Regions from separate parts of the Homo sapiens genome. Here region 2 is linked to region 1. The links come from fine-mapping of genetic effects on gene expression. A gene starts in region 1. The other region holds a variant in brackets. All regions are shown on one strand. Distances are between the middles of the regions. Region 1 holds the start of NEU4 (neuraminidase 4). Region 2 overlaps D2HGDH (D-2-hydroxyglutarate dehydrogenase).

Region 1 (2,895 bases):
CCCAGGGACCTCTGCAGGCCACCTTCCCTCCCTCCCCCCTCAGCCCAGGGACCTCTGCAGGCCACCCTCCCTCCCTCCCCCCTCAGCCCAGGGACCTCCGCAGGCCACCCTCCCTCCCCCCTCAGCCCAGGGACCTCTGCAGGCCACCTTCCCTCCCCCCTCAGCCCAGGGACCTCTGCAGGCCACCTTCCCTCCCCCCTCAGCCCAGGGACCTCCGCAGGCCACCCTCCCTCCCCCCTCAGCCCAGGGACCTCCGCAGGCCACCCTCCCTCCCCCCTCAGCCCAGGGACCTCTGCAGGCCACCTTCCCTCCCTCCCCCCTCAGCCCAGGGACCTCTGCAGGCCACCCTCCCTCCCTCCCCCCTCAGCCCAGGGACCTCCGCAGGCCACCCTCCCTCCCCCCTCAGCCCAGGGACCTCTGCAGGCCACCTTCCCTCCCCCCTCAGCCCAGGGACCTCTGCAGGCCACTCTCCCCTCTTAGCCCAGGGACCTCGGCAGGCCACCCTCCCTCCCTCCCTCCCTCCCCCCTCAGCCCAGGAAAGGCACAGGAGAGGATCCTGCCAGGTAAAGGGAAAGTGGCCCGGGAGGAGCCCACGTGCCAACAACAGGAGTCCCAGAAGACAGAAAAGACCACAGATGAGAAAGCAGTTCACGCAGAGAACAAAACGTTCCCGGACCAAACCCAGGGTCGGGTTGCTCATTCCCGAGGCCCGATAGCGAGATGCAGATGAACTGGGGAAGAAGAGGGATTTTATTTCTGTAACTGGTTACAGGGAGAAGGCCTGGAAATGATCGCCAGACCAACTCCAGATTACAGTTTTTCCAGAGCTTACACACCTTCTAAGCTCTGTGTCTCCGTGTCAGTGTGCATTCGTCTAAAGACGTACGTGATTCAATTCTTCTCATCTCTAACTGAGGTCTGGTCCTGAAGATCTTCCTCTGAAGACTCAGTAAATTTACTTGATCTAAATGGGCCCAGGTGTTTACCCTTATCTTGTCTTCTGCTAAATCATGGAGGTTTGGGGAGTTCCTTCTCCACTTGTTTGTGGAGGCCTGGGGAGTTTTTTCAGACCCCCAGTAAAACTTGTTTAATCCTAAACGGGTCCTGGTCTCGTCATGCTTCAAGGCCCAAGAAAGCCCTGGGCAAAACTCTTGATGGGCTTTTGTTACGTCCCAGCCCTCGTGTGAGGGCGCTGGCTCTCAGCTTTCAGGATTTCACTTCACCCTCAGTCAGTGCTGAACAGTTGTCGCGGAGGCCTGCGTGAGTGAGGCCTGGCGTGCCCTGGAAACATTCCCCTGAGTTGAAGAAAGACTCACAGTTTTCAGCATCCAGTTACCCTCTGAGCATCAGGCAGAACCCGCCGGCCCCAAAACCAGGCCCCCTTGGCACATGTGGGCCCGAGTGAGTCCAGCATGAGGAGGTGCCGCTTCTGAGCAGAGCTCAGGTTGTCTCTGGGAGGAGGAGCGAGCGTTGGGTGCGGTGGCCGCTGCGTTGGCAGCCCTGTCCCTGAGCGGAACGCAGGTCGTCTCTGGGAGGAGGAGCGAGGGTTGGACGCAGTGGCCGCTGCGGTGGCAGCCCTGTCCCCAGGCGTGGACTCTGCCCTCAGCTTCACAGTCACCGAAGAAATGAAGTTACAGGAGGGGCACACCGTCCTTTTGTCTCTGCCTTTGAGGTTGGCGGGAACTGAAACTGGTACGGTCTTTTTGAATAGAAATTTGGGGTCTTTCTGGCGACGTAAAACTGTGTGTAGTTTGCAGTAGAGAGTGTTGAGAACAGCCTGTCCGGGCTGTGCATTGAGAAGGGGCGGTTAAAATGCTGCCACGTCGTGCAGCCCATAAAAGGGGGACACAGAGTAGCCGAAACTGCTCTTGGGGGAGGGGGCACGTCCCAGCCTTCCGTGTGATGCTGGGGTCAGCGTGGCCCCTCGGCTGCCAGAGCTCACGAAGACGGTTAAGGAAAGCTTCCCCCGGGTGGCTTTCACCCCACGGGGACAGAGCCCCAGATGGGCCCAGGGACCTCTGAGCAGCCGTGGGCCATGGGGTGACAGTTGGGGGTTGGTGGGACCCGTGGCTGTCATATACCCTGGGTAGACGGTGGCTTGTCCAGGCAGAGATGCCCAGGGGAAGTGGGTGGCACCTGAGGGCAGATCTGACTTTTCAAGAGAAGCTGAAAACACGGGTTTTTCTGTGAAATCTCTAGATTGAAAACAGTGGGCTTGAAAAGCCTGGAGCAGAGGGAGTGAGGCCTGCCCCCCACCCCAGCTCTGCGGGCACACCCTGGCCAGACAGCCCTGCTCCAGACCCGGCCTGTGTCTCAGGGTGGCCCAGGAGGGGACTTTGCAAGGTGACGTGGGGCTTGGAGGTCCCGTTTCCCTGTAAGCCTGGGTACTTAGGGGATGGCCCTGGTCAGACTCCACCAGTCCCAGACTTGGGGGACACGAGAAGGGAGATGGGCCACCCAGTTCTGGTTGGGCTGGGGTGGGGCTTCTGAGGGGTGGGGAGGTTGTCCCTTCCCACCCACCTGCCCCTGCCCCAGGATTCTCGGCTGTGAGCAGGAGGATGTGTACGATGGCCAAGTTGCCTGGACTGGGTCCGCCCCTCCTGGGGCTGTGAGTGCACAGGACACTGGGCCCACAGGCACCTCTGGGGCTCTGTCCCCGTGGGGTGAAAGCCACTTGGGGGAAGCTTTCCTTAACCGTCTTCACGAGCTCTGGCGGCCGAGGGGCCACGGGGGGCATTCAGATGAGTCAGAAGGAGCTGGGGCCCACCCCTCCTGCTTCCTCGCCGCCCCCCTCCCAGCTGCCCCCAGTAAATCCCCTCAGGCCCCTAGGACCTGGAGGGACGCGGCAGGTTTATCATCTCAGCCTGGAAACCACGTGACCTACCTGTTTCCCAC
Region 2 (2,895 bases), 57 kb before region 1:
TGCAGCTGGTCGGGCGCCATCTCCACCTGGCCAGCCCGGTGCAAGGTACTGACCCCCCACACAGGGGGCAGCTGGTCCTGCAGCTCCTTCTGCACGTCTGGACACATGGGACGGCTCAGAGACCCCGGGTGGGCGGGGGGTGCCCGGGCGGGCGGGTGGGGGGTCCCTGGGCGGAGCATGGAGTGGCCGTTGGGCTCATGTGTAAGAAAGCTGCTCTTAACATATTTAGGACAAAGAACAGGCTGCCCTGGTCCTGTGTAAGGTTTGTAGTTACACAGATTTCCTGATCTTCTGCAGGAAGGACGGGAAGGAACTAAGTGGCTATTTTTGGTGAGCTGGGAGACTTTCTTTCCATTTCTTCTTTTCTTTGTTTTCCCATGTTGCTTTCTGTAAGCACGTTTTTCTTTTATGCTGGGAAAAAAGCCAATAATTTTTTGTTGTTGGGGGATGGAGTTTCGCACTGTGGCCCAGGCTGGAGTGCAATGTCACGATCTTGGCTCACTGCAGCCTCCACCTCCCGGATTCAAACCATTCTCCTGCCTCAGCAGCCTCCACCTCCCGGGTTCAAACGATTCTTCTGCCTCAGCAGCTTCCACCTCCCGGGTTCAAACAATTCTCCTGCCTCAGCCTCCTGAGTAGCTGGGATTACGGGCACCTGCCACCACACTCAGCTAATTTTTGTATTTTTAGTACAGACAGGGTTTTGCCGTGTTGTCCAGGCTGGTCTCGAACTCGTGACCTCAGGTGATCCACCCACCTCAGCCTCCCAAAGTGCTGGGATTACAGGTGTGAGCCACTGTGCCCGGCCAAAGACGACTTTTTAAACCTTCTGAAAGTCAGCTTAACCAGAGAGCTGTGTGCTCCGCAGGCTGCCTGGGTCCTTCTTGGCCACGAAAGATCAGTGGTTGCTATTACAGCTGTTCTGCCCGAGCAGCCCTGATTCTTGCCCTGGCAGCCGGAGCCTCTGCTCACTCTGCCTTCCTTGCTCACTTCTAGAGAGTCCGTTTTACGTCCTCATCGAGACTTCAGGCTCCAACGCAGGCCATGACGCTGAGAAGCTGGGCCACTTCCTGGAGCACGCGCTGGGCTCCGGCCTGGTGACCGATGGGACCATGGCCACCGACCAGAGGAAAGTCAAGGTGCCCTGTGTCCTGCTTGCAGGTCCCCGCTCTCTGTCCGTCCAGTCCAGCCTTGTCTTGGGATGCCTGGAACGGTCATTGGTGCAGCCTAGACAGTGTGGGATGTGGCTGAAATGTGACTGGGTTTCATGGCTTTGAGAGAGTAGCCTCTTTGGATGGAAAATGTATTCCTGGTGTCTAGGCCATTTTCATTAATATTTAAAAAGTACTTCCTCCC[C/G]ACCATGACCCTCCCCAACCCCATGCTGTGGGATGAGCAAGGGGACTGCCCCATTGCTGGTCCCCTGCAGCCTGTGGTTAAGCGGCCAGTCAGCGGCAGCTCCGCATAGAGTCGTGTGGAAGGAGTGGAGGCAGGAGGAGCCCCTGGGGCTGTGGAGGCTTAGCCTGGACCTCGGGAGTCCTAGGATGGGCAGTTTTCCTTCCCTAGGAGGAAGGGGCGTTGACTGTGTGACCAGATGATTTGGCCTTTTGAGGCCAAAGGAAGGAGGGGCAAGGCCTGGGCAGGGGGAGCCCTCGGTCACCGTCACCGGGGCCTGGGCAGGGGGAGCCCTCGGTCACCGTCACCGGGGCCTGGGCAGGGGGAGCCCTCGGTCACCGTCACCGGGGCCTGGATAGTGGGAGCCATTGGTCACTGTTACCGGGACCTGGGTGGGAGGAGCCCTCAGTTACCTTCACCGGGGCCTGGGCAGTGGGAGGCGCCCTTGGTCACCGTCACCAGGGCCTGAGCAGTGGGCGCAGGACTTTACTCCCGCTTAGTTGATTTCAGGCTCGTGTTAGCCTGGGTGTTGCCCTTGCCATCTTCCCCCCTCACCTTTGCCGCCTGACTGTCATGATTCCAGTGCTTCTGGGCAAAACGGTGTCTGCTCCCAAGGGCTGGGGTGCGGTCGGCTGGGCTCACTTGTGTGTCCTGATGCCCAGCCCAGGGGCGTCCTCTGGGCGAATGGCAGCTGTGTGGTGCCATCTCTGTTGACTGAGGCATGATCAAGTGTGCGTCCTTCCTAGGTCTCTGCCTGCCATTCCTGCATTTTTCTAAGTGGACTGTGACAGTCAGCTCCCTTACATTCTGCCGCAGTAACAAGCAATCCCCAGGCCCCAGGGACCACACGAACAGAGGCTCACCCTCCCTCGCGTTCCGTGTGGGTGATCGCTGTGGCTGCATGTGCTCCTGTGGCTTCCAGTCCAGGGGCCCGGGCTGAGGCAGCTGCCCAGCCAGTCAGTCTGTTTTCCCAGCAGAAAGAGCAGGACAGCCGCCGGGGATTCTCTCAGCTTCTGCTTGAGATGGGGCGGGAACGTGAGCCCAACTGCCCTTGGTGGTGCGGGTGGGGACCCTCATCCCGCACTGGCTGCTTTGCTGGAGTGGCAGTCAGTCATGCAGCCCCCACACCACCCCCAGGAGGGCGACCCTGGCACCCCAGCCTCCACACATCAGCCCCCATGCCCCCACAAAGGAAGGCTGCCCCCAACACCCCCAACCTCTCTACCAGCCCCCATGCCACCCCCAGGGCGGGCCGTCCTCCATGCCCCCAGCCTCTGCACATCATCCCCCACGCCACCCCCAGGGCGGACTGTCCCCAACGCCCCCAGCCTCTGCACATCAGTCCCCAGCCCCTCCACAGCCTGGTCCAGTCCTAGACCTGTGCCTTGAACATTAATGCCCAGAGCCGGGTTCATGACCAGGACAGGGCCGAATGGGGCTGGTTCTGTGTTCACAAAGTCACCTCCAGACGCTTCCTGGGACGGGTTCAGGAGACGCCTTGTG

The links. PIP is the estimated chance that this variant, and not a neighbour inherited with it, causes the effect.
Region 2: its variant is the best candidate, but not a certain one, in a credible set for the expression of NEU4 in left ventricle (GTEx, PIP 0.51).

Annotation. Positions count from the first base shown.
Region 1 is chr2:241,807,583-241,810,477 of GRCh38, forward strand. It overlaps NEU4 (neuraminidase 4), which reads left to right and starts at 1,611. Exons shown (of 4, transcript NM_001167600.3): 1 at 1,611-1,692. It overlaps LOC124905349 (a long non-coding RNA gene), which reads right to left. Exons shown (of 2, transcript XR_007088398.1): 1 at 2,885-2,895; 2 at 733-1,786.
Region 2 is chr2:241,750,250-241,753,144 of GRCh38, forward strand. It overlaps D2HGDH (D-2-hydroxyglutarate dehydrogenase), which reads left to right. Exons shown (of 10, transcript NM_152783.5): 7 at 1-45; 8 at 997-1,139. Among named protein-coding and RNA genes, the nearest start is that of D2HGDH, 17 kb to the left of the region's middle. The variant C/G (reference allele first, on the strand shown) is at 1,357.